2 separate regions of the Homo sapiens genome follow, and region 1 is linked to region 2. The links come from fine-mapping of genetic effects on plasma protein levels. A gene starts in region 2. The other region holds a variant in brackets. All regions are shown on one strand. Distances are between the middles of the regions.

Evidence for each region. PIP is the chance, under the fine-mapping model, that this variant and not a neighbour inherited with it causes the effect. Protein levels are from the aptamer-based SomaScan assay of Sun 2018.
Region 1: its variant is fine-mapped to the plasma level of the SPARC protein (Sun 2018, PIP 0.95).

What each region holds. Positions count from the first base shown.
Region 1 is chr5:151,719,775-151,734,970 of GRCh38, forward strand. No RefSeq gene overlaps it. Among named protein-coding and RNA genes, the nearest start is that of ATOX1-AS1, 26 kb to the right of the region's middle. RefSeq lists silencers at 720-829, 1,660-1,860, 2,320-2,520 and enhancers at 1,072-1,251, 1,322-1,581, 1,842-1,911, 1,932-1,981, 9,667-10,203. The variant CTCTTTCTTTCTT/C (reference allele first, on the strand shown) is at 12,185.
Region 2 is chr5:151,677,730-151,694,259 of GRCh38, forward strand. It overlaps SPARC (secreted protein acidic and cysteine rich), which reads right to left and starts at 9,186. Exons shown (of 10, transcript NM_003118.4): 1 at 9,136-9,186. CLMAT3 (colorectal liver metastasis associated transcript 3) reads left to right here. Exons shown (of 5, transcript NR_109873.1): 2 at 1,491-1,607; 3 at 1,927-2,027; 4 at 8,100-8,222; 5 at 8,653-10,181. RefSeq lists enhancers at 6,639-7,468, 8,297-9,126, 9,127-9,954.

The DNA.
Region 1 (15,196 bases), 41 kb after region 2:
ATTTCCCAGGGTCATGTTCTTTACAGAGGCAGGAGGTCAGCTCTACTGGTTCCCTCACACTGTTTCAACTTCCCTGCCCTCTAAACAGGCTGCACAGCATCCTCCAGCCCCAACTATCCTCTCAGAAGAGTTGTCGGAATAAGGACAAAAACAACACCCTCTGTCTCTAGGTCCTTCTGGAATGTCTTCTAAGATACAAAGTCTCCTCTCAGGCCCGTTAGCTCATCCCACCCTCCCTCCACCTCTGTCTGGATTAAAAGCCTTCTGTGCTGGAGGACAAGGAGAATCCTGAAGAGCCAACTAGCTGAACTGCTAGAGTTGCTCCAGTGATTCTCCAAAGTGCCTCTTATCCTGAGACTTTCCTGTTGTCCAGGAGACCCAATGGATGTTTCCCCCAGCCCCTTTGCCTAGGGAAAAGTAAGTGATAGCAGGCAGGAAGGCCTTGCTGCTGTAGTGCCACTGTGCACAACCTAGAAAGCTGCAGCAAAGAGAGACTTGAAGGTTGCTTGGGCAGCTCCCAGAGATGGCACTGCTTTTCAGGGAAGTTGTGTCTCAGGTAGTGACTATTTGGGCCAGTGCTACGCAGGTGGTAGAAAGAATTTACCAAGACAGTTGTAGGTCAGCAAAGCAGATTTGTTAGAGGAAGTATGAAAGTATGTTGCAAGGGTGCAATGGGTAAGTCAGCAAGAGAGTAGCTGACTGCAAGGAGTCAAAGGCTTGCTGGGGATTTTTTAGGATGGTGCTTGTGCTGTGTGCTGAAGAGGGCTTTGTACAGTACAGATAATGCCAAGGTTGCAGTGAGCTAATGTACATTATTCTATCAGCCGAGGTGTCTGGTGATAGTTGGGCACAGGAAGATTGTGAGTTATTTGCACAGGAGGGCTATGTGTCCTGGACCATGAAGAAAGGCAGATGTATAGCTTATCTACTTTTTCTTTTTTCTTTCCCCTGCTCCCACCAGCCTGACTCCTTTTCCCTAATTAGGACTCCACAGGTTGTGGTCCCCACTACCTAGGGTCATAACCTTTGCAGGTTTTGAAGCTCCGTCTGATCAGTTTGCAGTGTTGGGGGATTGCTGCACAGAGAAAGACAGATGCTCCTGGAAAATACCAACATGTCCCATCCCCCTCATCTGGAGGATGAGCTTTTGCACTAGCAGAAAGTTTGTTTCTACACCTAAAGCCATATTATTCCCTATGCCAAGGTGTTGAATTAGACATCAAGAGGTTGATGAAGGAGTACAGAATTGGAGCAAAGGGTGATCTGAAGGGATGTGACATCTAAGTGGTGTGATGAAGTGTTCCTGCTCCCATAGTAAAGTCTGTCCTCACACAGTGGGAGGCAGTAGTTCTTAGCATAGAGGCTAAAGTGTAGTCTCTGCCGTGCATTGTATGCATTCAAATTCTGATCTATTCTGAGTAACAATGTGGCTCTGGGCAAGCTACCTTTCTAGGTTGCAGTTTCATCTGTAAAATGACAAAAAAGAAAGTATCAGAACAAGTTGGTACTAGGCCCAGTCCTGCTATAAGTTGCTGGTCACGTCAAGTAAATCTCTCAGCCTCTCTGGATCCATGCTTCCTCCTCTGAAAAATGAAAAGGGTTGAATCAAGGGTAGACTCTTCTACTACAACAATCTCTGAAACTGTGGAGGGAAAGTCTGAGCCACTCCCCACTAAGAAGCTGTTACTGCTTGGATGCCTGAGTTTTCAATGCCTCAGTAAACTATACCACCTCTGGGGAACTCCCAGCCCAAGGGGGAAGACTGCTGAATGACAGAGCGCTTTTCATGATACTTGGCTAGGGCTGTGCTAACTTAAACAATGAGCACAGTTCTCAGTCCTGAAGGTAACAAGAACACCCTTGCCAATCTCCAGAGAGGAAAACCTCTGTAAGCTCATATATGTGGGCAGGACTTCCACAGAATTCTGGAATGTCAAAGCTGGAAAAGCTCTCAGGGAGTTTCTAGTTCAGGGGTTTTAAGTCACATTCTGTACTTCTGCAGTTCCACAAACTATTAATATTCACCTTATTTTGTATACCAGAGACTGCATTTAAAACTGTGGCTGCAAAACAACAAAGACACCTAAATCAGTCATCTGTCAAATGTGAACACATCAGAGACCAAAATTCATTTATACATTGTGGCAGATTTTGCTAGTGGTCCCCTTTCCCTTTGTTGTAGAAACTACACTTGAGTGGGGCCATAGTGCCCTGATTAAACTACATCTCCCAGCCTTCCTTGCAGATAGGTAAGGCAGTGCAGTTAAGCTTTAGTCAGTGGGTTGTAAGCAAAGGTTGTGAGTGTGACTTATGGGAGTTTTCTTCAAGTGAATGGGAATGCTCTTCTCATTCCTCTTCTAGCTAGCTCTAATGTGGACATGATGGCAGAACTCAATCAGTCATCTTGGACTTTGAATTGATAGAGAGAAGGAGGCTTGGTCCTGATGATCACTGAGTTACCTTGCTGACTCACTTCCCTACAGTGAGTGCCCTGGACTGCTCACCTCCAGATTTCATTTACATAAAAGAGACATACAATTCTGTCTTATTGAGGCCACTTCTATTTGGGGTTTTCTGCCTTTTGCAGCTAAATCTAATGGACACATTTGTGTTCTCAGTAATTGACTTTATAATGCATTCATAATATAAATATAAAAATAGCTTACTGAATAACCCTAAGGAAAACCACTCAGGTCAAGGAAACCACTCAGGTCAAAAAATAACATTTTGCAGCCACCCCAGAAGCTCTCTGTGTGCCCTGTCCCAATCACAACTACCTCCTTGCTTCTAAAAGCAACCTCTGTCCCAATTTGTATAGTAAACATATCCTGTTATACAGTAATGACATAACATTTCCTTAAAAACATTTTGGTCAGAGACTACTTTTATCTGTTTTATTTGAGATGCTCCTTAAGACTTTGCTTGACAGAAGGCTTCTTCTAATAAAAAAGTTGGCCAATAACTGAAATAGTCTGACCCCTTCATTTTACAGAGGAAGAACATGAAGTCAGAGAGGGGAAAGAACTTCCTTATTTTAAAACTGACAAATAAAAATTGTATGTATTTATGGTGTACAACATGATGTTTTGATGTATGTATATATGCAAAAGGATTTTCTAATGTCAACCAGCAAATTAGAGGTAGAGTGGACTAGAACTCATGTTCTCTCTGACTTTTTAACATTTTAACATTTTATTTTCCAATCCATTTCAGGGGAAGCAATCCTAGATACAAGGTACCAGCCTTGTGCAATGGCTCAAGGATGGGAAAGACTTGCAAATACAGTCTCTAGTACAGGACATTTTATCTTCAACAAACACAAAACCTGCCTCTTTCCACCCAAATCTCAGGGGAAGGATGCTACCAAGGATTCTGACAATGGTTCTTCCCAGATGGCTTTGCATTTTAACACAAACACATCAGCAAAGATGGAGTCAGACACAGAGTGACACAGTGGGGATGCCGATTGGATGAAGTGATCTTTGTAGGCCTCCTCAGAACCCTGCACCAGGGCATCTCCCCCATAGCTACTGTGTGCCCTGAGCCTGACACACAGAGGCCCTTGGAGATCACTGTGGCCAAGGGTGATGCTGAGTCTCGAGATCAGAGGTGTGAAATGCAGAGATGCAGGCGAGCCCCAGCTCTCTTTGCCATCTTTGCTAGACTGTTCTGACCAGCATGCGGCTGCACCTAACTCAATTTCTGGAGAATCCTTCATGCTCATGAAAGTCAATTATTTATTTATTTTTAAGACAGAGTCTCACTCTACTGCCCAGACTGGAGTGCAGTGACACAATCTCAGCTCACTGCAGCCTCCACCTCCCAGGTTCAAGCGATTCCCCCACCTCAGCCTCTAAGTAGCTGGGACTATAGGTGCCAGCCACCATGCCTGGCTAATTTTTTTGTATTTTTAGTAGAGATGGGGTTTGGCCATATTGGCTAGGCTGGTCTCAAACTCCTGTCCTCAAGTGATCCATCCCCCTCGGCCTCCCAAAGTGCTGGGATTACAGGTGTGAGCCACCACGCCTGGCCAAAAATCAATTATTTTATATTATGACAGATGCCCGTCATGCTTTTGTGTAGGACATGGCAGTGTCCAAGATAGCTCACTGGCCAGATTCCATAGCCTTCTTTGTCTCAGATTCTTGGAAGTTTTTGGGTCAGGCCTATTGGCTTCTCCCTTTTCCTATAGGTTAGAATTAGCAGACAACATTAGCAAAGATGTGACTGTGTGTTCTGTGGGGGAGAAAAAGGTGTTCCAAGGACTAAAAACTTGGGAAACAAGTTCATACTTTATCTCCTTTTTGAAAAGTCTCAATTACAGTATTAGTACCTTGAAGGATCTGCAAATTTCTACAGTAAATTATTTTGCTTGATTTTGATGGGCCTGGCATTTTTCAAACTTTTTTGGCTTTGAGACCTCATGTTTCACTAATAGCATTCTGCACGAAACAGTTTGGCAAATGATACTAGCCGCCTCTTTGATGGATAAAGGATGTATTAATACACATAGGATAGACAACATGGCTGGAAAATCACCTTTCTGGCCCAGGTAGCCATCCCTCTGGAAAAGTACTGCATTATCTCTGACTCTGTAAAAATCCATTTCTAATAGCCCCAAGAAGCCACTGCAGAAATGATCTAAACCAGTCTGGGATGGGTTCCCCAGGGATAGCTGGCTGGGCCCTACAGCCTGGCACCAGACTTATTGTACCAAGAGCCCTGGCCAGCCGGCAGCCACCCAGTGTGTGTCTTGACTTGTTTTTCCTTCCTTTCTCTCCTCCTTTTAGAAGACAGCTGAATGGTTCCAGTCTTTCAGTCCTGCTCCTGGCCAACACTGGACCTCTCAAAGTCTAGCCAACTCCTCTTCCAGCGCCTTGATAAACAACCCCCTCATGCTGGGAACCACAGCAGTGGGCTGTTTTTCTCCCTCATGCACCCCAGGAAGCCTCTCCTCTTTGCCTGGGCTTTCTTCCCAAGGCCTTAGCTGCCAACCCATTTTACACCCATGCGAAGCCCAGTCAGTCACCTGAAGAAAAGGAGACTCACAGAAGGCCCAAGATGAAAGACTCTTTAATCCTGTGGCTTTTTGAGTTTTGTTTTTAGCAGGAAGACCTTATTTTCAAAACAAATTGTTACACAGAATTTGCCAGTTTACAGAACAGATGAATAAAGACATTTATGGCAGACTTGTTTATTGTAGCACAACACTGGAAAGACACGAAAAGTCCATCAGTAAGGAACAGATTTAATAAGATGATGGTGAAGTCATACAATGGAATACTATTCTGCTGTCTAAAAGCGTGAGGCACCTCCCAACAATAATAGCACAAGTTCTGAGAAAATCTTTACTTTATATGGACAGTATTTGGTTAACAGTTCCATTTTAGGGCAAAGACCAAGATTACTACTTGTTTTGTTAAAATGTGCCACCTCCTATTCAAACTTGTCCAATGTTTATTTGGAACTTAAATATGGTGACCAAATATCCCAGTTTGCTTAGAACTGAAGGGTTTCCTGGGATATAGGACTTTAAGTGCTAAAACGGAAAATTCCAGGCAAAGGAATGAGTTGGTCACCCTATACTTAACAGAAGTCAACATGTTATTTTAGAAAGAATAGGTAGATTATTATTACTAATTTTAGCCCATGTTAATAAGCCAATATATTCACAAATAAAACAACCAGTATTTGTACTTTACTTATTTATTTTTATTTAATTTTTTTGAAACAGAGTCACACTCTGTTGCCCAGGCTGGAGTGCAATGGTGGGATCTCGGCTTACTGCAACCTCCGCCTCCCAGGTTCAAGCGATTCTCCTGCCTCAGCCTCCCGAGTAGCTGGGATTACAGGCATGTGCCACCAGGCCCAGCTAATTTTTATATCTTTAGTAGAGATGGGGTTTCACCATGTTGGTCAGGCTGGTCTCGAACTCCTGACCTCATGATCTGCCCACCTCGGCCTCCCAAAGTGCTGGGATTACAGGCATGAGCTACCACACCCGGCCAGTATTTGTACTTTAAATACGAGGGCAAAACCATATGAACTGATACGAAACATGAAACTATCTCAAGGTGCAGTAAAAAGTGGGGGAAAAGGCAAGTACAGAACAGTGAACTGAGTGTGCTCTCATTTTTTTAAGTTCTTTACTCTCTCTTTCCCCCACCCCCAAAGGTCAGAGCAGGGGGGGATTTGTCCACATAATAAAATGAAGTTTGTGACTTGTCTACTCCATCATAAGAAAATAGCTGGGCTGATTTTCACCAAACTTGGAGGATATACTTGGGGTGGTCTGACTTAAATACAGATTGTTTGGCATATGAAAATTGATCCTAGTAACCCTTCCTCCTGGAGAGGAAACTTGAAGAGATAAGCAGCCACTCCCCAAAGCTGACGCTAGTTTAACAGACAAGGCCTATGAGATCACCAATCAGAAAAGACTAACCAGGCCGGACATGGTGGCTCATGCCTGTAATTCTAGTACTTTGGGAGGCCGAGGCGGGCAGATCACCTGAGGTCAGGAGTTCAAGACCAGTCTGGCTAACATGGTGAAACCCCGTCTCTACTAAAAAAAAAAAAAAAAATTAGCCAAGCATGGTGGCAGGCACCCGTAATCCCAGCTATTTGGGAGACTTGAACCCAGGAGGTAGAGGTTGCAGTGAGCCGAGATCGCACCACTGCACTCCAGCCTGAGTGACAGCAAGACTCCATCTCAAACAAGAAAAGAAAAGAAAAGAAAAAAGAAAAAAAAGAAAAGACTAACCAGATAGCTTCAGGTCCGTTGACAGGGAAAACAAAGACTGGTTTCCAGGGAGTCTCCAAAATAAAAGCTCACAAAGTGGACTCTCCAGATGGAAGGCCTCAGTCTATAGGCTGCCTCCCACATGGGTGGGTGCAGTCAGATGTCCATGTGTGTAAAGATGGCTCATGGTTTTTCTGAATTAGCTGGGCATGGTATGTACCTGTAGTCCCAAATATGCAGGAGGGTGAGGTGGGAGGATTGCTCGAGCCCAGGAGTTTGAGGCTGCAGTGAGCTATGATTGTATCACTGCACCTAGGCAATAGAGCAAGTCCCGAAAAATGAAAAATGTTTTAAAGTGGTTTTTCTGAAAGGAGCAGCTCTTTTGGATATTAAGTCTTTCATTTACATAGACAATTCCTGAAAGATGCATATGAAATGGGTAATAATCAGTGTCTCCGAGGAGGAGAACCATGGGTCTGAAATGAACAGAATATATTTTTTATTATGCATCCTTTTGAGTTGGCAATATTTTCCATGTTTATATGTCAAGTCCTTTTTTAAAAAATTATATTTTAAACTTACAAAGAAACTACAGAGATAAAGTTAACACCTTCTGGCTTTGACAAATCTTAACATTTTGCAATAAATAGTTCAGACAGACCTCTGTTAATAAACAAAATGTGTGTGTGTGTGTGTGTGTGTATATATATATATATATATATATATATATATATATATATATATATGATTGAATCATATATATAATTGAAACCCAGTCCTATTCCTCATTCTCCCATACAAAAAGAAGTAAACAATACCTTACATTTGGAGTTTATCATTCCTATACATATTTTTTACTTTTAACACATATGTATGCCTCCCCAAATGATATATTTAGATTTTAAATTCTGACTGCTATATTGCCTGATGTATAAATACAGTGTGATATAATTACTGCTTTTATCTTTTCAGTCTCCTTTGGATGGATATTTGGGTTTTTTTTTTTTACAATTTTACATGTATGACTTTTTTTTTTTTTTTTGAGACAGACGCTTGCTGTGTCACCCAGGCTGGAGTGCAATGGCACAGTCTTGGCTCACTGCAGCCTCTGCCTCGCAGGTTCAAGAGATTCTTATGCCTCAGCCTCTCGAGTAGCTGGGATTACAGGCGTGTGCCACCACACCCAGCTAATTTTTGTAGTTTTAGTAGAGATGGAGTTTCACCATGTTGACCAGGCTGGTCTCGAACTCCTGGCCTCAAGTGATCCACCCATCTCAGCCTCTCAAAGTGCTGGGATTACAGGCGTGAGCCACCATTCTCAGCCTACATGTATGACTTTTGTGATTAAAAAAATAATGGGTGCAACAATAATCATCAATGTCTGCTAAAACCATGAGTTGAAGAGCTGATGGGGAGTTTATAATGGATGGACTAGGCTGACAACATCTGAATCCATCCATCCATCTTGATATTACACACAGAAAGACAAGCAGATATTATGTGCTGCCTGATATGATATAAGAGGATTTCATAGCACCGTCTATGAAAGATTGTCAGCAAAAAATCAAAGGTGGTTCTGATGAAGTATAAACCTAACCACCATTTTACAGGAACTTGAGGGGACTAAGGAACACATTGCATTATGGGGTGCACTCAGTAAAATCCAGAATTACAGAAGACCCTCCTGCACAGAAGACCCAACTTCCTCAACAGATAATTTGCGGAGAAAAACAAAAAAGGGCAGGAGTAGGGTTGCTACAGACTGAAAGACTTAAGAAACATCAATCAAATGCAATGTATGGACTTTGTTTGCATCCTGATTTGAACAAACCAAGGGCTTAAGAAAAGAATAAATAAATAACAATAGAGGAAATTTGAGCACTGGATATTTTATGATATTAAGAAATTTGTATTAACTTTTAGGTGTCATGATGGATAGGTTTTTTTTTTAAATCCTATCTCTCAGAAGAAATACAATAATACAAAAATTAGCCGGGTGTGGTGGTGTGTGCCAGTAGCCCCTGCTACTCAGGAGGTTGAGGCAAGAGAATTGCTTGAACTCAGAAGGCAGAGGTTGCAGTCAGCCAAGGTTGCGCCACTGCACTCCAGCCTGAGCAACAGAGCAAGACTCCATCTCAAAAAAAAAAAAAAAAAGAAAGAAAGAAAAGAAAAGAAAAAAGAAATACAATAATAAAATTAAATGATGCTGGTGTTTGTTTCAGAATAACCCTGTGTGGGGTGGGGGCGGGCAGTGGAAGATGCACCGAAACCGGCTATGACTTGGTAATTCTTGAAGCTGGGAGATGAGTGTATGGGGTTCATGATATTATTCACTTTACTTTCAGATATTTTTGGAAACTTCCATAATAAAATATTTAAATAAAATCCAGCTAGTTAATTTCTTTTTTTTTTTTTTTTTGAGATGGAGTTTCACTCTTTGTTGCCCAGGCTGGAGTGCAGTGATGTGATCTTGGCTCACTGCATCCTCTGCTTCCCGGGTTCAAGCTATTCTCCTGTCTCAGCCTCTGGAGTAGCTGGGATTATAGGCACATGCCACCATGCCCGGCTAATTTTTGTATTTTTAGTAGAGACAGGGTTTCACCATGTTGGCCAGGCTGGTCTTGAATTCTTGACCTCAGGTGATCCACCGCCGCGGCCTCCCAAAGTGCTGGGATTACAGGCATGAGCCACCGTGACTGGCCTCAACTAGTTAATTTCAACAAATAAGAGGTGTAGTCTTGGTAGGAAGATGCCAGGGGTTGGAGCCCCACTCTCAGTTCCTCCCTTTTCCCTGAGGTACCTGCACAGAGCCTTAGGTCTCTGTAGAACAGTTTGAAATCACTGATCTAGACCATGGATTATTGGGGGAACCAGCCCCCAATATTTCAATTTCGGTTCTTTATATTTTCCCTAAGTGTCGGCCAGTCTGAGAAATAAAGAGAAAGAGTACAAAGAGAGAAATTTTACAGCTGGGCCTCCGGGGGTGTCATCGCATATTGGTAGGACTGTGATGGCAACCCCAAGCCACAAAACCAGCAAGTTTTTATTAGGGATTTTAAAAGGGGAGGGGATGTACGAACAGGGAGTAGGTCACAAGGATCACATGCTTCAAAGGGCAATAAAAGATCACAAGGCAAGGGCAAAATTAGAATTACTGATGAGAGTCTGTGTCCCGCTGTGCATGCATTGTCTTGATAAACATCTTAACAGGAAACAGAGTTCGAGAGCAGACAACTGGTCTGACTAGAATTCACCAGGCTGGAATTTCCCAGTCCTAGCAAGCCTGAGGGCACTGCAGGAGACCAGGGCATATTTCAGTCCTTATCTCTACCGCATAAGACAGACATTCCCAGAGCGGCCATTCATAGACCTCCCCCAGGAATGCATTCCTTCCCCAGGGCTATCAATTATTAATATTCCTTGTTGGGAAAAGAATTCAGCGATATTTCTCCTACTTGCACATCCATCTATAGGCTTTCTGTGAGAAGAAAAATATGGCTCTATTCTGCCCAACCCCGCAGGCAGTCAGACCTTATGGTTATCTCCCTTGTTCCCTGAAAATTGCTGTTATTCTGTTCTTTTTCAGGGTGCACTGATTTCATATTGTTCAAACACATATGCTTTACAAACAATTTGTACAGTTAACGCAGTCATCACAGGGTCCTGAAGTGACATGCATCCTCAGCTTATGAAGATGACAGGATTAAGAGATTAAAGTAAAGACAAGCATAGGAAATCACAAGGGTATTGATTGGGGAAGTGATAAATGTCCATGAAATCTTCACACTTTATGTTCCGAGACTGCAGTAAAAACAGGCGTAAGAAATTATAAAAGTATTAATTTTGGGAACTGATAAATGTCCATTAAATCTTCACAATTTATGTTCTTCTGCCGCGGCTTCAGCCGGTCTCTCCATTCAGGGTCTGTGACTTCCCGCAACAATGGACAGACAATTTTCTTCTGAAAAGGGCAAAATAGTAAACAGTCTAGGCTATGTGGGCCAAATGGTCTTCGTTGCCATTCTCCAACTCAGCTGTTATAGTGTGGAAGCAGCCATAGATAATACAAAAATGAATATGACTGTGTTTCAATAAAACTTTATTTACAAAAACAGATGGTGGCTTGATTTGGCCTGCAGGCTGTCGTGTGCCAATCTTTGATCTAGACCAACCCCTTCATTTGTTTTATTATTATTATTATTATTATTGAGACAAGGTCTCAGTCTGTCACCCAGGCTGAGTGCCGTGGTGTGATCATAGCTTCCTGCAGCCCCAGTCTCCTGGGTTCAAGCAATCCTCTCACCTCAGCCTCCTGAGTAGCTAGGACTACAGGCAGGTGCCACCACCTGGCTAATTTTTAAAATTTTTTTAGAGTTGGGGTCTCACTATGTTGCCCAGGCTGGTCTTGAACTCCTGGCCTCAAGCAATCCTTCTGCCTTGGCCTCCTAAAGTGTTGGGATTACAGGCATCAGCCATCATGTCCAGCCTAACCCCTTCCTTTTAAAGTTGTGGAAACTGAGACCCAGGCGGTTAAAGTGGCTCAAGATCACACACACAAACACACACACACACACACACACACACACACACACACACACACACACCAAAAAAACCAGGACCTTGTGAAAGCAACTGCTGCAGATCCCAATCTTGACTTTAGGCCTGCGTATCTTGGTATTATGGGCAAATGAAAGCAAGCATATGGCAGGTGGGTGGAAGAAATCAGGGAAGCACAAGCTTATGTATCAGTTAGTGTTAGGTTCAGCTGTATGTATATACCAGTAAGCTCAAAGTAACAGTAGCTGTAACAAAAATGAAGATTATTTCATTCTCACATAGAAACAAAATCTGGAAATAGTTTAAGGCTCATGTATAGAATCCATCATCTTCTAGCTAAGTGCCATGGTGCATACCTGTAGTCTCAGCTACTCTAAAGGCTGAGGCAGGAGGATCACTTGAGCCCAAGAGTTTGAGGTTGCAGTGAGCTATGCCCTCAGCACTGCACTTTGGCCTGGGCAACAGAGTGAGACCCCCATCTCTAAAAAATAATAAATTAATAATAATAAGAAGAATAATCTTTGGAGACCCAGGTACTATCCTTAGGCCACGGCTTCAAGTGCTAAGGAAGGTGACATCATGGCCTGATACGGCTACTAGATTACATCCTTATTTCAGGCAGGAGGAAGAATAAAGAATGGTGAGGGCCTTCTAATTGCATCAGCTCATTTTAAGGAGTCTTTCTGGAATTTATTTGCATCGCATTAGCCAGAACTTAGTTATATGTCACACTTAGGGGAACAGGAAACTAGGGAATGTCGTCTTTATTTTAGGTTGCCATGTGCCCAGCCATAAATTACTAAGGAAAAGGGGATGAAAGGCTTTCCTTCTCTCTTCCTTCCTTCCTTCCTTTTTCTTCCTTCCTTCCTTTTTCTTTCTTTCTTT[CTCTTTCTTTCTT/C]TCTTTCTTTCTTTCTTTCTTTCTTTCTTTCTTTCTTTCTTTCTTTCTTTCTTTTCTTTCTCTCTCTCTCTCTCTCCCTCCCTCCCTCCCTCTCTCTCTCTCTCTTTCTTCTTGAGATGGAGTCTTGCTCTTGTTGCCCAGGCTGGAGTGCAATGGCGCGATCTCGGCTCACCACAACCTCCACCTCCCAGGTTCAAGCGATTCTCCTGCCTCACCTCCCAAGTAGCGGGGATTATAGGCATGCGCCACCACACCCAGCTAATTTTGTATTTTTAGTAGAGACAGGGTTTCTCCATGTTGGTCAGGGTGGTCTCAGATGATCCGCCAGCCTTGGCCTCCCAAAGTGCTGGGATTACAGGCATGAGCCACTGTGCCCGGCCGAAAGACTTTTGAATAGAAAATTAGCAGTCTCTCTCACAAGTTATTTGAATAAACTGAGTTGGTCCTCTTCACCTGAAAAACGCCAGGGGTGTTTAATGACCATGACAAAGCAGCATGAATTAATGGAAGGAGCACCCCAAGCTGCTCCCATTTCCCTATGTGAACTCAGACAAGTACCTGCACTTCTCTGTTGCTTTACTTTAGCCATATGCACAGTGAAAGGGCTCTAACAGTTCCACTTGTAGGATTTTATTCCTAGGAAATACTGAGTTACCTGATACCAGACCATATACACTTTAATAAGTTCTGGAAACAACCTATTAATAGATCATTCTATCCATCTGAGTTCAGTTGTGGGGCACAGGCACGACCTGAGCTCAGAAAGGGACTTCATCAGGTGCTTACAAAAGGATTGGAAGGGCAGGAGGAAGGGGCTGAGGCTGAGCTTCCAGCATTATGACTCTCAGAGCAGTATAGGTGAACTGGCTACCAGAGGGGCAGCCACATTGCCCCATCAGGAGGGCAGGGAAGCAGAGGGTGGCTGCTGGACTATGAAGTTCAAGTAGGCACTGCCATGGCTGTGATCCAAGGGGTCAGGAAATCACAGCCACCAGCACCTCTCAACACGTACGAAACTAGTGACTAGACACGGGAACACTGCTGCCAAATAACCAATGTCTCCATGCTGGGCTGGAACAGCCAAAATCTGTGGGACAATGGCTTTTCCTGATTTCCACCTTCCAAATCTAGCAGGAGTGAACCTAATCAATGAAACTTAATTTTTTTTTTTTTTTTTTGAGATGGAGTTCTGCTCTGTCACCCAGGCTGGAATGCAGTGGCACGATCTCAGCTCACTGCAATCTCCGTCTCCTGGGTTCAAGCGATTCTCCTGTCTCAGCCTCCCGAGTAGCTGGGATTACAGGCTTATGCCCCCATGCCCAGCTAATTTTTTGTATTTTAGTAAAGACAGGATTTCACTGTGTTGCCCGGGCTGGTCTCGAACTCCTGAACTCAGGCAATCCACCTGCCTCGGCCTCCCAAAGTGCTAGGATTACAGGCGTGAACCACCGCGCCCGGCCAGTGAAACCTAATTTCAATGAGAAACTTAACTACCAGGAAATTAGGTTCACGTGGGGCTTGGCCTTCCAGCCTCATATGTGGGAAAGCACACAGGAAAGAGGTTGGAATTGATGTGTAGTGCCGGTGAACTATATGCATGCACCACTCTGTATAAATTAGCTAAACAAATTAAGGTGCATTTGCACAGTGGAATGCTTTCCAGCCACTAAAATCAGTATTTTTGTAACCAATAAATACTTTCCAGTCACTTAAATGGGCAAGAAGGGACAAATCTTCTTAGAATTCCAGACAACATATTTCTCCCTTCGGGGAGTGGAGTTTATTTCCATATGCACCCTTGAATATGGCTGGACTTAGTGACTTGCTTCCTGAGAATAGAGAATGAAAAGGAAAAAATGGTAAGTTTCTGGACACAGATCCAATCCAGTGTACCACATCGGGTTTAGTCATCAGGTCTTCTTAATCTTCTCTGATCTTTGAGAGTTTTCCAGGAACCTCATGGCCAGGAGTTTGCCAGGAACCCTAACATCATCAGTAATAGATCATGTCAGTATCTATGCACCCCCTGAGACAATGAAATAAGATGGAGACTTTACCTCTGTGTATGTTCCTCCCCCAACTCCAGTTTAATCGTGAGAAACATGCCAGACAAACCAAATTAGAGGGACAGGCTATATAATACTTGGCCAATAGTCTTCACAACTATTAAAGTCATGAAAAACAAGAAATGACTGCTAAACTCTCAAAGGTCAGAGGAGATGAAGGAGACCTGATGACTAAAGGCAATGTGGTACCCTGGATTAGATCTGTGGCCAGAAAGAGAACACTTATGAGAAAGCTGGTAAAATCCAAATAACATCTGGAGTCCAGTTGACACTGTACCGGCCAAGCAGTTGCTCACACCTGTCATCCCAGCACTTTGGGAGGCCGAGATGGGCAGATCACCTGAGGTCACAAGTTCGATTCCAGCCTGGCCAACATGGCAAAGCCTCATCTCTACTAAAAATACAAAAATTAGGTCGGGAGTGGTGGCTCACGGTTGTAATCCCAGCACTTTGGGAGGCCGAGGTGGGTGGATCACAAGGTCAGGAGATCAAGACCATCCTGTCCAACATGGTGAAACCCTGTCTCTACTAAAAATACAAAAATTAGCTGAGCATGGTGGTGCGTGCCTGTAATTCCATCTACTCGGGAGGCTAAGGCAGGAGAATAGCCTGAACCAGGGAGGCGGAAGTTGCAGTGAGCCGAGATAGCGCCACTGTACTCCAGCCTGGTGACAGAGCAAGACTCCGTCTTAAAAAAAGAAAAAAAAAAATTAGCCAGGCAGGCTGAGGCGGGAGAATTGCTTGAATCTGGGAGGCAGAGGTTGCAGTTGAGCCAAGATCACTCTACTGCACTCCAGCCTGGGCAACAGAGTGAGACTCCATCTCAAACAAAACAAAAACCAATGTGCCAAGGAGCTTTGGTACCAATGTACCAATTAGATCTTAGTTTTGACAAATATGTCATAGTCATATAACACATTAACATCAGAGGAAG
Region 2 (16,530 bases):
GGAAGCAGAAACAGGCAGAGGAAGAGCCCACTTCATAATGGTCCTTTCTTGGGCTTAAAGAGACACAAAACCTCACCCCCTATTGCACAGAGTGAATGAAGTAAAACTAACAGAAATGTAAAGGACCTGGGGGTTTGGTATTGCTTCACAATAACCCCAACTTCCAGAGGAGTCTAGTCTTCCCTTTTGAGGCAGCTTGTGGAATGTTCCTCCCCTCACACAGTTGTTCACTTGTTCCCCAGGCTTAAGTGGAAAAATCTCCCTTCTTGCTTCCCCTTTTGGAAGACGCAAGATAAATAACTCCTGCATGTGGCTTGGGACAAATGGAACAGAAAAGAAAACATCAAGGAAGGACTTGTCTGAGATAGTTTGAGGTTGAAGGATCAAAGTGAAATAGCAGCTAAAACAAAACAAAACAAAAAGTTACCCTGTCTGAGCTATAATGACAGGGAAGTCATGTTATTGAAGAAATAGCCCAGCTAGGACTGGAAATGTAGTAAGCTTCAGATTAGAAAGACAGGAAGACAGACATTTCCCTGAGTCTGCGTCCTTCATATGAGCAGAGTAACCGCGCTCCCCTCTGTGACCAGGGGAAGGTTTCGCTGGGCGGCTCTTCTGTCTGTCCTGCCTCCTCATCTTCCTGAATTCCTTTTCCAGCTGCACACTCACCCTCCCTGCCACCCCCATCCCTGCTGTTGCAGCCAGAAGAGAAAAATAACTCTAAGTCTTATAGTGCTGCTTCATAGTTTCTAAAGCACTGTCACATAACACTGTCTCCTAGAGCCTTCTGACAATGCTGGGAAGTAGGCAGACAGGCATGGAAGGGTTCTTAGTCCCACTGTCCTAATGGGGAATCTGAGGTTGAGAGGGAGGAAGCACTTGTCCAAAGTCATGCAACAATTCAGGCCCTCTCCAAATAGGCAAGCGTTCTCACTCATGGAGTTGGGGTGAGCCTAATAGGAATTACGCTCAGACAAGTGGGAGTGGGGGAGAAATGCAGAGAGACTGTTAAGAACAGAACGCAAAATCTTGGAATACACCTTAAAAGTTTTGGAAGAAAACTGTAAACACAAACACAAAATCTGGGTCCTGCCCAGCACCCGGTGCTACACCACCAGTCCAAGAGCACTTTTCCCCCAGATGATGAGATGGGAGGGAAGGGAAGCGGCTGAACTATTCCAGATGCACAGCCATCTCCCTGCCTCCCCACGAGATACCTCTCTGAGGCTCTCTAAACTACCACTGACCAAAGAGCCCTGTGTCCATCCTGCAAAGCTAATGGAGTATAACAGTCACCCCAGCAAGGTCAGAACACAGTATCAAACCCCAGCATTCAGAACTCACAGCTGTGATCCTTTGCCAATCAAACCTAGGTGTAGCGTGCCTGGCGAAAATTTAAATTCCCTTCATATAAATGACCAATATTAAACAAAAACTCCCTCCTTTGTATTTCTTTAGTCTGTGATGATGCATACATTTATCATTTTCAGGGTGTTTTCATAATCCAGCACCCCACTGGGGGCTCAAGTCACATATTTCTGCCCAATAGTACAGATGAGAAGACCAAGGCCTAGAGGAAAGGAGAAAACTGCCAACGGCTAACAGCAGTGAGTGAGTGACTGGGTGGCAGGGCTAGGGTGAGAACCCGTGCAACCCTACCCCACCACTGGTATGTCTCTACCTCTGCACACTATTTCCCTTGGCAGCTACCCGCTCCCAGGTGGTCACCTGAATGGGGCTCAGTTGGGCCTTGAACTGGCCTGAGTTCCTGGGAAGGAAAATGCCCAGGGCCAGGGGAGGAAGAGAAGGCATATTTCCCTTGGCATGGTGGCCATCAAATGCAGACAGTTTTAGCCCCCTCCCAGCCGCCACTGCCTCCTGTTCCGTACATCGAGTCCCTTCCTTTTGCCTTTATTTGCTCTGGAGACTGCTGAAAACCCGTCCTTGGCTGCCAGCAGGACCTGAAGCTGAGGTCACTTCTCTCTCTGGAAAGACTCTGAGGATGGAAAAGTACAGCCAGCCCCCAGGTTTGTCCCTCAAAACATAAAGGGCCTCCTTTGGGCTCTCCTTGGACGTTAAAAAGCCACTGAACGTTAGAACAGGGGGGATACCTCAGAATCATAGAATCATGGACTGTGGGTCTCAGAATGATAGACTTAGGATGTGAAGCAAAGAAACTGAGTTGCCATCATTAAATCTTATTTGGGTGGAAAGAACTTATGGAGTAATGCAACCCAACAGGACTTCCCAAGATGATGAACACATTCTATATCTACGTGGTCCACTATGATAGCTACTGGTTACAAGTGGTTACTGAATGCTTGAAATGTTGCCAGTGCAAATGAAGAACTGAGTTTTAAATTGTATTTCATTTTAACCAATTTTTTTATTTAAAAATTTTATGCAAAAGGACTGAGGCCAATCCAAAATATCTTACTTAACCCATACCTTGTTGAAATACTGCAATAGAGAATAGTGGAAAACATCTTTTTTTTTTTTTTTTTTTTTTTTTTTTGAGACACGGTCTCCCTCTGTCACCCAGACTGGAGTGTGGTTGGCGCAATCTCAGCTCACTGCAACCTCTGCCTCCTGGGCTCAAGTGATTCTCCCATCTCAGCCTCCCGAGTAGCTGAGATCACAGGCACTTGTGACTACACCCAGCGAATTTTTCTTTTCTTTTCTTTTTTGTAGAGATGGGGCTTCATTATGTTGCCCAGGCTGGTCTCGAACTCCTGACCTCAAGCCATCCGCCCGCCTCAGCCTCCCAAAGAGGTGGGATTATAGGCGTGAGCCACCATGCCCATCTATTTTAATCAACTTAAATCTAAATAGCCACATGTGGCTAGTGGCTACCATGGTAGACAGAGTGATAATAAACTATGAGGCAGTATAGCATAAAGGTAAGCTCATAGGCTCTGGAGCCAGAATATACAGGTTCAAATCCTGGCTCACCACTTAGTAATTGTATGACCTTTAGAAATCAACTTTACCTCTTGGGGCCTCAATTTGTTCCCCAATGTGTAAAATGGAAACAATAACATACCAATCTTTAAAGGCTCATGGGTGATTTACACAAGAGAATCCAAATAAAGAGGTAAGCAATGTTGTCGTTGGGAAGAGCATCTTATAAAGTCCGAGGTTCCCAGAATCTCCATCCCCCGAAAGAATTCAGTGCAAAATTCCAGTGCTTTATAAGCCCAGGGAGAAAGGGGTGTTTGGGTGGAACAAAGGACATATTGCCCCTGTTGGTCTGGGTAAGTCCAGCCTCCAGAGGATACAGTGACGAAGACCAGGCCCAGGGCTGGCCTCTTACTTGGGCAGCTGATACCAGCCAAGCATCTCACTCTCACTATTTGGCTTGGAAACAAGGGCTCCAAAAACACATGTTGCTGGTAAACAAGCCCAAAGAGAGGAAAACAAGCCTAGAGGCTAATAAAGGAAGCCAAGAGCCAGGCCCTCCAGGGAGTTGGGACTCGGAAGGAGCCTGGGGTCTGCTGACATGGGGACCGAGCCAGGCAGGCCAGAGAGGTGGCCACATGCAGCTACAATGGCACTCCTGCTCACACCCCTGGGAGCAGACACAGCAGCTCAGAGGTGGCCTCATGACGTGGAAGTCAGGAGAGCTGAGAGCAAGTCAGCATGTCTCCCAGCTCACTGTGCGAATTCAGGGGAGTCTCCTCTGCTCTCCAGAACTAACACCCCCAGCTTGTCTGTATAAGGTCAGTGCTCAAAATTATGTAAGCCAGAAAATCCTTTATTTCAATGAAGTCTTCTGCAGAGTCCGATATTTCAAACAGCTGAAATCTTTTAGCATGTACTGAACCATGTGAATGAGTATTATCTAGTTAATCAATAAGTGTGAAATTAAAAAACAAGAGCAGGCTGGGCGCAATGGCTCACGCCTGTAATCCCAGCACTTTGGGAGGCCAAGGAGGGTAGATCACCTGAGGTCAGCAGTTCGAGACCAGCCTGGCCAACATGATGAAACCCCGTCTCTACTAAAAATACAAAAAATTAGCCGGGCATGGTGGCGGGCGCCTAAAATCCCAGCAACTCGGGAGGCTGAGGCAGGAGAGTCACTTGAACCTGGGAGGCAGAGGTTGCAGTGAGCCAAGATTGTGCCATTGCACTCTCGCCTGGGCAACAAGAGTGAAACTCCCTCTCAAAAAAATCCACAAAAAAGAAAAGCAGATAAAAGTGGAGTGGAGCTGAGGAGTGGGAGTCCTACACACAGGGACATTCCCTAAGATACCTTGGAACATCTGTACTTTCTCCTAGGAACACAATATGGAACCCTTAGGCAAGGTGGTCCTTTAGGTTCTTTTCAGCTCTGATTTTCCGGATCAACTTGGGCAGAAGCTTTTTAGAGCCTTACCTCTCTCCACTTGCCCCTTGACTCCCTGCTTCCACTTCTATTTCCTGCTGGAAGGAAAGACGCTAAAGGAAACTTTTAAGGTGTGGTAGCTAAAACTTAGGACTGGAGAGCTTCTGGGGCAACTCAGAGGTGGCTCCAGAGTTTGGGGCTGGAATCAGCCCGAGATTCCATAAAGACATCTGAGATGCCACATTTCACTGTGGCTAGCAGAGGCTGGGGTGGAGCTTCAGGCTTCATCCTTGGCTCCCTCTAGGGCACCGCTGCTGCATTGTGGTGACCACAAATGAAAGGATGAGAAATAACATCAAAGTGTCCAGGCTATTGCATCTGGAAAAGCCTCCGAGATCCCAAAGATAGCAAATATGTGGCATATGTGACAAACACGTGGCCTCCACCTACCCCTCCTGCACATGTGGCAGACATTACTAATCAATCGCTTGACCTCTTCTCCTAAAGCTTAGAGAGTCATCAGAATCCTGAACACAGTTCTTCTGACAGCCACTACCGATGAATTAGTGATGTTGTCAGGCCACATGAAACCTCTGTGTGCTGCCTCTTATTGTAGAGGTAGAGAAATTGAGGCTTAGAGAAGGAAAATACCTCACTGGAGGTCACACGGCAAGCTGGTGTCTAAGCCAAATTTCCAGATGTTCAAAAACATCCAGATGTTTGCTTTGCTTTTTTTATCTGATAGGTCTGAAATCCTAATGCCATGACTAACATCAAGATGACCCAGAGTGATCCCCAGATGAGAGAAGTTAATACCAAGTTTCTGAAAGAAACCAGCTCTGACAACAATTGTTGTCTATGTTCATGTTTTCCTTGCAGACATAAAGTTCTATAGCTTGATGGGTGAGAGCAGAGATGATTTCCTGTCTAAGCTGCCAGTTGAGGAGAGGCTGTTTCTCTAAATAATTCCGTCAAGTCACTACTTGCTGGCCCTGGCCCTGCACAGCCCAGCTGTCCCTGGGTTCAGGATTGAGGTTGGGAGGGAGGGAGGGAGGGAGGGAGGCATCAGGGTCTGTGCTGTAGAAACAAGGTCCTCAGGGTTGCTGAAAGCTCAAGGCTGGTTTTCCCTTCTCTCCTTTGAAACTGACGTTTGGGAGGGAGCCAGCTAGAAGCAAGGGAGCAGCCGCCTACAGGCACATCATGCAGGGCCTTTGGGCCTAATGACAAAGCCACGTGGGCTGGAATAGGCATTGCAGGCCAGCCAACGGGAGAGACAAAGTGCTGCTCACCACTTAGTATCCATGGGGCTTGTGTGCATAAGTGTGTTTCCAAACTGAACAAATGGGGATTGGGGGGGAAGGCAAGGTGAATATCAAAATGGCTCCAAACACGTGGAAGTTTGGCTCAGACGCCAGCTTGCTATGTGACCTCCAGTGAGTTATTTTCTCTTCCTGAGCCTCAGTTTCTCTCTCTCTGAGACATAGAGGTGGTTGGTGATAAATGTAGGTTACACGTCTGTCTCATTGTCATGATCCATATTATGTTTGACTGTGCATATGTTTGACTGTGCACATCCATCCATGTGTGGCTGCAAGTGGCGGTGTGTGTTTGTATACCTGATGGCATGTCTGTGTAAGTTACATACAGCCTGACTTAGCATCTGTCTGTTTCAGCCTGTAATAGGCGAGGGTCAGAATTTTCACATTCATTGAGATATATTCCTGGAACTTGTCTGTAAATCATTGTCATCCAGGAAGAGGTGTGTGAGTGAATGACTTTCTGTGTCTGCTCCTGTAATGAGGCACTTATTTTTAGCTGAGCCAGTGGGTGCCTGTTGATGAAATCGATGTTTATACTCTTCATCCCTATGGGTTTGTACCTGTCCCTGTTTATCTCTGCATATTTATCTACCTACATAAACAACTTCAAAAGCCAAATATTCTACTGTTTACCTCACATCCTCAGCTCTTTCCTTTCCTTCACCATTCTTTCTTATTTATAGCTTGTTTTCAGCAAGGAAAGCTGCTCTCATGAATAGCAAACCCCAGCCACACTGTTGATTGACAAATCTCTACAGATGGATAAGGATTACAGCATGATGGTTATGCAACTCAAGATCCCCTAGCCCATCTTTTCTTGTTTTCTTTTCAACTGGGGGTGCAGTAAGGCGGTGTTAAAAATGCAGGCAAGCTATTCCTTTGAATAAAAGCGGTATCTGGGATTTAGGTTTATAGGACTTCAGAGTTAGAAGGGTGCCTGGGAAATCATCTAGCTTAGAAACTCTATTTAACAGTTTGGGAAACTGCAGCCTCAAGAGAGGAAGTGTCTTTCCCAATGTCAGGCACTGGGAGTTAGAACACACTTTTTTTTTTTTTTTTCACCCTTGGCCAATGCTTTTCCTACATAGAGGGCACAACAGTCTTGGGAAATACACAAGAAGTTCCCCAAATCAAAATGAAGATAAACAATATTATGATTTTAAAATTTTTCCTGTCAGTACTTCTAGTAAAGGAAAGTTCTATACAAACCCCAAGATGATGGAGCTGCCAGGAAAAAAAAAAAAAAAAAAAGCTGAGAATGATTTCACTAGGTCTTTGGATGCCTTTAATCCATCAGTTCTAAAACCCTTTGCATTATGAGGGAATGCCACAATTCGCAAAGTGCTTCCCTGTGCATTATCCCATTTCTTCTACACACTATCTACCCCCTAGAGGTGGCTGCTGTTACTGTTCTTTAACTGTAGAGGGAATGGGGCCCAGAAAGAAGTATTAGTTCAAGGTCAAATGGTACCTTCAGGGCACAGCCAGAGCTAAAACCCAGGTCTTCAAACACCCTTGCAAGGAGATTATCATGGCCCAAGGCTTCCCCGGAATCCTGAGAGATCACAAGGGCAGGGCCTAGAATTTGCTGCAGGCCTTGAATTTGGGGGTGGGGTACGTTCAGACTGATGTTCTTAGAGGGTTTCAAGGGTCCCCTCCAGCCAGCAGGCAGAGACCCTGAAAAAAAGGTTACCGTGGCAACTCGCATTCCTCGGAGAGTGAGTCAGGCAGAGAAGAGCCTTCTGGTGGGTGGGACTTGGAGAAAGTTTCAAAAGTTGATTCCTTCTCCAGGCAACCCCCTTCTTCTCCTCCCTCCCCCTCTTTGCTCTAGGCTATGTCGATGTGGCAGCTGATAGCTGAGAGTTAACTCTCTCTTTCCTCAACCACTCCCTTTTCAGAAGGCTTCATCCTCCAGCAAATACACACATTTGTTACCAGTCCTCACTCCATCCCCACGTCATGCCCTCTAATCCATTTGAGAATATCTTAAAGCTGAAAGCTGTGACCACCCATATTCATCCTCTCTCTCTCTCTCTCTCCCTCTCTCTCTCACACACACACACACACACACACACACACACACACAGTGCATACAATTTTTAGGGGCTTAGAGATGGCTTGAGGCCCATTCAAAGACCACTCCATAGACCCTGGTTAAGAAATCTTCCTTTGAATATTTTAGAGGACACAAAGCACCCCAAAGAGCCTTCAGTTTCAGCCTTCTTTCATTACAGATGGGGCACTAAATCCAGGGGAGACACTTACCTAAGATCACACATAAAATGCATGCCCGAAGCCTGTGTCCTACTTCTGCTTTGCTTCTCACTAAACCACCAGCACTTGGGGCGTATAGAAATTTAACTCTAAAGCATTACTAGAGAAAACATTTTCTCTAATGAAAAAAATGCTGTCCTTTCCTGAGGAAAATGCATGCCTCTCTGTTCCCTTTTGGGCAGACTGGGAATCCTGGAAGACATAACTCATCCCAGTGCCCCCCTTCCCTTGGAGTCCTTGGAGTCCCTTTCCCTAAGGAAGTCCACTTGACAGCCAGTTCACGGAGCCAGTGGCGGCGAAGAAAGGTAGTGGATTTGTCTGAAGAAGAACTGACACCCTGACAGGCTGGACACTAGTCTTGGGTGGATTACGGAAGGGGACCCTGGAATTCTCTCCCTCTTCCCTTCCCCCTTTCCCCCTTCTGAGAATATCTCCCCCAGCACACTCCACCTCCCATTACACCCATGTCTTGGTTGACGATATCTGATGTCTGGGTTTTCAGATCTAGATAAACTAAGGGCTACTGCCTGTGTTTACCATCCCAAGGAACTCAGGACAGGAACAACACCTAACCCAAGACTGAGGTTGTGATGGTGCCATTTCAGGCAGAATGGTGCTGAAATTTGTGTATTGGGGGGACGGAAGGTGGTGTTTGGGAGTGAGGAGAATTAGAGGAAAACAGAAGGCTTCCCAGAGGTGTGGATTAATGGTGAAGCCTCCCCCTTTGCCTTTCAGAGATCAACTGATTGTTCGTGCAAAGTCCCTTTTGGAAAACAGAACCCCTGACCGAGATCTGGAGGACAGACTCCGGTTGCTGGCCAGGTCCCTGTGGCAGCTGTGATGGGATCAGATTCCCAGGAAAGGAGGAGGCTGCCACATTTGCAAAGGGAGCAAAGAGGACAGGCAGGCAGCCTCTGAAACCAGAGACAGACACAGAGAAAAACAGAGAGTGAGAAAATGCTCCCCCGAAGACATAGTGAGATTATTTTCTGTAAACCTGTAAGGGAAGACAAAGTTACACAGTGAGTCCACCTTCTGAAAAGCAACAGGCAGACAGGACCGAGGGCCATGCTCTTAAGGGGAGCCGTGATGGAGCCGGGAGGAGAGGCGCATCCTCAGCAGAGCTTCCCTCCCTTGCACACGAGCTGACGGCGTGAACGGGGGTGTCGGGGTTGGTGCAACTATAGAAGGGAAAGGCTGGGCGGGGGTCACACATACCTCAGTGGCAGGCAGGCAGGCGGCAGGCAGAGCGCGCTCTCCGGGCAGTCTGAAGGACCGCGGGAATGTGGAGGGGTTTAGAGACAGGCAACAGGAAACCACTCAGAGCTCTGGGCTGGGTCTATCTCCCCTCCACCCCGTGGTCCCTCCTCCTCCTGTCTCCTCCTTCCCCCGGCCTCCTCCTTCTCCCATAGCCAAAGCTGTCTCTGTCTTTCATTTCTTTCCTCCTCTTTTTGCGGTGGGCTGTCCTGACCAAACGTCCCAACCCTGCCTGCCTCATCTGTTCCGGGGCTGCTGCCTAAACCGACTCACAGAGTGCCAGGGCTGGACAGGCCTGGAGGGATGACCCAGAACAGCCTCTTTCTTGTTCAGAGGGCAAGTGAGGCCTGGAGACTGCAAGGAATTACCCAATGGCCCCCAGGGGCAGAACCAGGCCCAAGTGTCTTGATCTTCTAACCAGTGAGCTTTACAGGAGTCCTCCCTAATATTAGGCAATGCTGAGAAGGGCCAAGCAATTCAAGGGGGTTGTATTTGCCACAAAGGCAAGGCCAGGACTTACCACTGTACAGACAAGACAAGCTGCTACTAGTGGTATCATCCTTGATGATTTGGAACTGGTCTTAAAAAAAAAAATCCCACTCAAACTCCACTTGTACCACTAATAGACACATAAGGGATTAGACATCTAGCTGGTGGACCTGTGCCACCAGTATTGAACAGATAAGGTAATTGATGATATTGATGATAATCATAGGAGTAACAATAGCCAAAGTTTACTGAGGATTTAATAATCTTCACAGCAACCCCTTATCTTAGGCATTGTAATTATGACCATTTTAATAATAAGGAAACATAGATGCTAAGTAACTTGCCTATGATCACCTGGCAAAAAGTGGTATGAGAGGGCTGATTCTACGTTTCAACTTGGGTCACTCCTGTTATATATGAACTGCTCAGTGCAACAGGTCTTGGTTGAATGTTTATTTTGTGCCTAACACTCTGGGAGGTATGAGAATTAATAAATACCTGGTCCTTGTCCTCAAAAAGTTTTGTGGTTTCCGGTTTTTTTGTTTGTTTGTTTTGTTTTGTTTTGAGACAGAGTCTCACTCACTCTGTCGCCCAGGCTGGAGTGCAGTGGTATGATTTCGGCTCACTGCAACCTCTGCCTCCCGGGTTCAAGCAATTATCGCGCCTCAGCCTCCAGAGTAGCTGGGATTACAGGCGCACATGCCACAACACCCAGCTAATTTATTGTATTTTTAGTAGAAATGGGGTTTCAACATGTTGCCCAGGCTGGTCTCGAACTCCTGAGCTTGGGCAATCCGAATGCCTTGGCTTCCCAAAGTGCTAGGATTACAGGCGTGAGCCACCGCACCCAGCTTAGCTTTGTGGTTTCTTAAATTCTTTTTTAATTTTTTTAGACGAGTTAAGTGCAGAACTGAGAAGGGAAAAAAAGTACAAGGAATTCAATCTGTGACTGTGAACAATCAATCGAGATAACTCACTATTCAAGGAGCTTTGGATCTTGCTGAAAGGTTGTGCCTTACACATACACCCACTTACATGAGTGGTACAGACTCTAAGGCTTATCCCAGGGCTTCAGATTGGTGGATTCCTGAAAGAGGTGGACCTGGAAGCATGGGTTGGGTTTGAATACCATGGAAAGGAAGAAGGCAGAGAACACCCTCATGATACACTTCCATCCGCTGTGGCCCCTGTCTCTCTTGCCATTCTCTCCTCCTACCACTGTCCTCTGTGCCCACGCTGCTCCAGCCATGCCAACTTCCTTCCAGTCCTTCAACTACCCCAAAGCTTCTCCCACCCCAGGATTTTTTTTTTTTTTTTGAGACAGACTCTCACTTTGTTGCCCAGGCTGGAGGGCTGTGGCGCAATCTCAACTCACTGCAACCTCCACCTCCTGGGTTCAAGTGATTCTGCTGCCTCAGCCTCTCAAGAAGCTGGGATTACAGGCATGCACCACCACACCAGGCTAATTTTTGTATTTTTAGTAGAGACAGGGTTTCACCATGTTGGCCAGACTGGTCTCGAACTCCTGACCACAAGTGATCCGCCCGCCTTGGCCTCTCTAAGTGTTGGGATTACAAGTCTGAGCCACCATGCCCAGTATCTTTGCATTTGCTCTTACCTCTGCCAGAGACACTCTTCCACCTGATTTTCCTGTGCCTATTCTAATGTCACCTCCTTAGGGCCACTCAATCTACTTGCCTCTCTCACAGGCACAGTTCATCGCCTTACACTGTTTTATTTCCTCCCCATCACCTGTCATTCTCAGAAACCATTTGTTTCCCCAACTAGACAGAAGCTTGGTGAGAGCAGGGACTTCACATGTCTGTTTACTGCTTTGTTCCCAGCATGTTGACCAGTGCCCCACACAAAGCTGGCTTGCAATATTTTATTCAATAAATATATGAACTTCCGACTTGCCCATCTGAAAAAAGAGAGGGTTGTCTTTTACTAGGGTTCCAGCCTGGAACACTGCCCCACACCCAAGAGACCCTCAAACCACTAAAGTGGAATATAAAAGTTAGGGTGTTTGGTCCTTTTGAGAACCTAAAGGAAGCAATGAACTTTCTCTGCAGAAAAATCCACAAACACCCAAGAAGGAGTCTTCTCCAAATGACCCCCAAGGGCCGGGTGCAGTAGTATGTTCCTGGAGTCCCAGCTACTCTGAGGCTGAAGCAGGAGGATTGCTTAAGGCCAGAAGCCTGAGACTAGCCTCGGTGACAGAGCAAGATGCTGTCTGTAATAATAATAAAATAATAATAATAATAATAAGGCCAGGCATGGTGGCTCACTCCTGTAATTCCAGCCCTTTGGGAGGCTGAGGCAGGTAGATCACCTGCGGTCAGGAGTTCGACACCAGGCTGGCCAACATGGCAAAACCCTGTCTCTACTAGAAATACAAAAGAAATTAGTTGGGCATCATGGCACGTGCCTGTAATCCCAGCTACATGGGAGGCTGAGGCAGGAGAATCGCTTGAACCCAAGAGGCGGAGGTTGCAGTGAGCCGAGATGGCACCATTGCACTCTAGCCTTGGAGACAGAGCAAGACTCCGTCTCTAAATAAATAAATAAAGACCCCCCAAGGCCTCTCACCCTGGTTCAAAAGCCAAGTGCTTTTGGCTGCTGAATACAGGGTGCTGGTGGACTCTCCACATATCTGTTTTGCCATCCGGACAGATGTATATTTTTATAGGATTGGTTGCTATAGCTCCCAGGCATTATGGGACTAAAATTAGCAGAAGCTTTGTATTTTTATTCATAAACTAAAATGATGATTCTGATGAGGATGAACCAGTGGAACTCTTCCCAGTTTTTGGCTGGTGTTCCCATGTGGCTTTCAGTTCAGGAAGTGGAAGTCTGGTTGGGGCTGGGCTGAAGCTCTGGAAGAGAGATCCCTCCTGAGGGCCACTTCCAGGTCTCTGTGGGGACACCCTGAGCCAGAATCACTCCCAGAAAGAAAACTTGGTAGGTTTTATATCTAAGGATAAGAGCACATGGCTGGGTGCAGTGGCTCACACCTGTAATCCCAACACTTTGGGAGGCAGAGGTGGGTGGATCACCTGAGGTCAGGAGTTCGGTGACCAGGCTGACCAACATAGTGAAACCCCGTCTCTACTAAAAATACAAAATTAGCCAGGCTTGGTGGCTCACGCCTGTAATCCCAGCTACTTGGGAAGCTGAGGCAGAACTGCTTGAACTCAGGAGGCGGAGGTTGCAGTGAGCTGAGATAGCACCATTGCACTCCAGCCTGGGCAACAAGAGTGAAACTCCACCTCAAAAGGCAAAAAAAAAAAAAAAAAAAAAAAAAAGCATCCTGGGGCAACAGGAGCCTCTGAAGCAAGGATGACTCTGACCTAGAAAGGAAGACCACTAGGACTAAGGCTGGTCTTCCTGCCACCTGCCAAGGGCTTTATAGGAAGGGAGAGAAGCACAACGCAGCCAGGTGTGATAGACCTGGGTGTGAGTCCCACTCTGCTATTGAGTCACTGAGTGACTTTGGGCCCATCCCTGCCCCTCTGAACTACACCTTTTCTTTCTTTCTTTTTAATTGTGTTAATAGAGGCAAGGTCTTGCTAGGTTGCCCAGGCTGGTCTTGAACTCCTGGCCTCAAGCAATCCTCCTGCCTTGGCCTCCCAATGTGCTAGTATTACAAGCATGAGCCATTGTACCTGACCCTACACCTTTTCATTTATAAAATAGGTTGGACAGCAGAATAGTAGTAATAAGAGCCAGCATTTATTAAACACCTACTATGTGCCAAGCACCTGCTAAGCTCTTTGCATATATTGTCTGACTTAACTCTTATAAATCTGGAACTGTTATTATTCCCATTTTATAAATGTGGAAAATGAAGTTCATATCAATAATTTGCTCAAGCTTATGCACCAAGTATATGGTAAATCAGAGATTCAAATCCAGGTTTAAGGGACACCAGAGCCCAAGTGCTTGACTACTGCACGCTACTTCCCCCTCAACTCCTCTCCAGCTCTGACATACGTGGACTTCAGACCATACACCCCTCTCCCGAGTCAAGAATGTTGCTGATCCAACATTAGGCTGAATCAGCTTTTCATCTTGTAAAGCAATCCATCAGTATATTGGGGTCCCTGCTGCCTGCCCACTGCCCTCTCCAACCACTCTCCAGCTATGCTCTTCTAGGCACTTCTCACTTTACCCTGATCCTGCCCTCCTGACCTAGCACCCCAGCCACAGCCTTAGAACTCAAGGGACTGCCTGGGAAATGTCCACATGTGCCTGCCATCCAGGCTCCGTACACCCCCAGTACATCAGCTACCTCGTTCGTTCATTCAGTCTTTATTGTGCTTTGCATCAGGCACTGGGGATATAGCAATAAATAGGACAGACAAGGCTCTGCCCTCTTGCACTTTACATTCCAATAGGTGAAGGCAGGCCGTGAGCTCATTTCAGGTTGTGATCAGTTCTATGGAAGAAACAAGGAAGATGAAATGAAAAAGCAATGGAGGATGACTTCAGATAGGGTCATTAGCATAGGCATCTTGGAGGAGGCAAGATGAGGAAGATGTTGAAGCATGAGTCAATGAGAAGGGCTGAGAGAAGAGTACTCAAGGAGAGGGGAGAACAAGCACCAAAACCCTGATGTGAGGAGAGCTTGGCTTTTTCAAGTAACTGAAAGTGTGGCTAGAATTACCTACTGGGGGAGATTTCCCATCTCCTCCCGTTCTTCCTCGTCCTTTTCTCCTCCATTTTCCTGTTGTTCATTCCTACCCTTTTTACACCCTTTTAGCCACTTCAACATACTTTCTTGTCCACTATCTCAGTGAATGCCACAGCAGTCCTGTGAAAGAGTTAGGGTAGGGATTAGAACCTATAGTGTAGATATGGAGAAACTGAGGCCTCTATCACTCAGGGAAGCTGGGGCTCAAAACCAGGTCTCCTGACTCCTGGCTAAAAACCAGATTCTTAACCACACCAAGAACCTGCTTGTCTTTCTGCTCACTGACTCCAGAGACTCTGTCACTAGCTCTGAGACCAGCCTATGGACCACCTGATGAACCATCTCTGGGAGCTGGACTGGGGCCAGGTAAACTATTCCTACACAGGGACAGGAATACTTGCACAGGGAGCAAGAGGTCTGAACTCTGGAAATAGAGCAGGAAGGCTCTGTGGATTTGGCTTCTGGCAAGGAGGAAAGCAACCAAGCATAAAGTTAAACAAATAAAAGCCGGACAAAGAAACATCCCCTAAGGCCATGCATTAAAAACAGCATCGGGATCTCAGCAGTTCAGATCTCCAGGTCATAACTCCTGAGTGAGCCTTTCGGGTTAAAAAAACTCAACAAAACTTACATAGGAGAACTTGAGGGCCCATGAGGGACCAGGTTTCATTGGAGCAATTGTCACTAAACTGAGAAGGCAGACAATCATATTCAATATTACAAAGCAGATGGTGGGCAAAACACTTTATGTCCATTATCTCATTTAACTCAACAACACTTATGCAGAATATTTGTTTTTCTATCATTACTATAGTAAATTACCACAAATTTGGTGACTTAAAAACAACACAAATTTATTATCTTATAGTTTTGGAGGTCAGAAGTCCTAAAATCAAGGTGTCGTTGGGTTCCTTCCGGAGGAAGGATGAATCTGTTGAGGAAAGAATCTGTTTCCTTACCTTTTTGTTGTTGTTGTTTTGTTTTTTGAGACAGAGTTTCACTCTTGATGCCCATGCTAGAGTGCAATGGTGCAATCTTGCCGCACCGCCACCTCCACCTCCCGGGTTCAAGCAATTCTCCTGCCTCAGCCTCGAGAGTAGCTGGGATTACAGGCATGTGCCACCACATCTGGCTAATTTTGTATTTTTAGTAGAGACAGGGTTTCTCCATTTTGGTCAGGCTGGTCTCAAACTCCTGACCTCAGGTGATCTGCCTGCCTGGGCCTCCCAAAGTGCTGGGATTACAGGCATAAGCCACTGTGCCCTGCCTATTTTCTTACCTTTTTCAGTTTCTAGAGGCCACCCTCATTCCTTGGCTTGTGAACCCTCACTCTGTCTTCTAAGCACATCACTCCAACTCTGCTTCTGCCTTGACATCTTTTCCTGACTTTGACCCTCTGGCCTTCAACTTTTAAGAACCCTTGTCATTACATTGGGCCCACCTAAATAACCTAAAATAATCTTCCCACCTTTAAATCCTTAAATTAATCTGCAAAGCCCCCTCTGCCATGTAAGATAGCCTGTTTATAGGTTCTGAGGATTAGGGCACGTCCATCTTTGGAGGGGCCATTACTTTGTCTACCATAGATGGGTACAATTACCATTCTCATTTTAAAGATGAGTAAAGAAAAGTTCTGAGAACTAAATCACTTGGTCAAGGTCCCACAGTGGAGAAGCCAGGAACACACACAGGTAGCTCCACTCCAGAGCCCTCTCTCCATGACTTCCCCAGGTACTCAACTGCCCATTCTGCCCTTCTGGCCATGGCTGCCTCCCTGCCCCCACTGGCCCCAAACCCAAACCCATTCATCCTTCAAGCTCAGATTGGATCGCTTCTATTTTTTCAAAGCTTAGAACTGACAGGGCCCTTTAGCCCTATTCAATCCCAGATTTTCCATGTGTGGCTGGGAAAATTGAGGTTTAAAGAGCCCAAGGTTACAGTGTGGACAGCTAGGCCTGGGGCCTCTCTCTCCCAGGCTGAAGCCAGCTCTGGCCTGTTCCAAATCTCCGGAGGGAGGGACTGGGCAGGCTGACCTCTTTGGGATGGGGATTATGTATCAGAACTCTCAAATATACCCTTTGTGTGGCTGGCTGAATGTCAAGGCTGCCAAGCTAAGAAGGTTCAAGCACATTGGAGGCTGACTCAGCCTGTTGCCTTGTTACTGTATCTTTCCC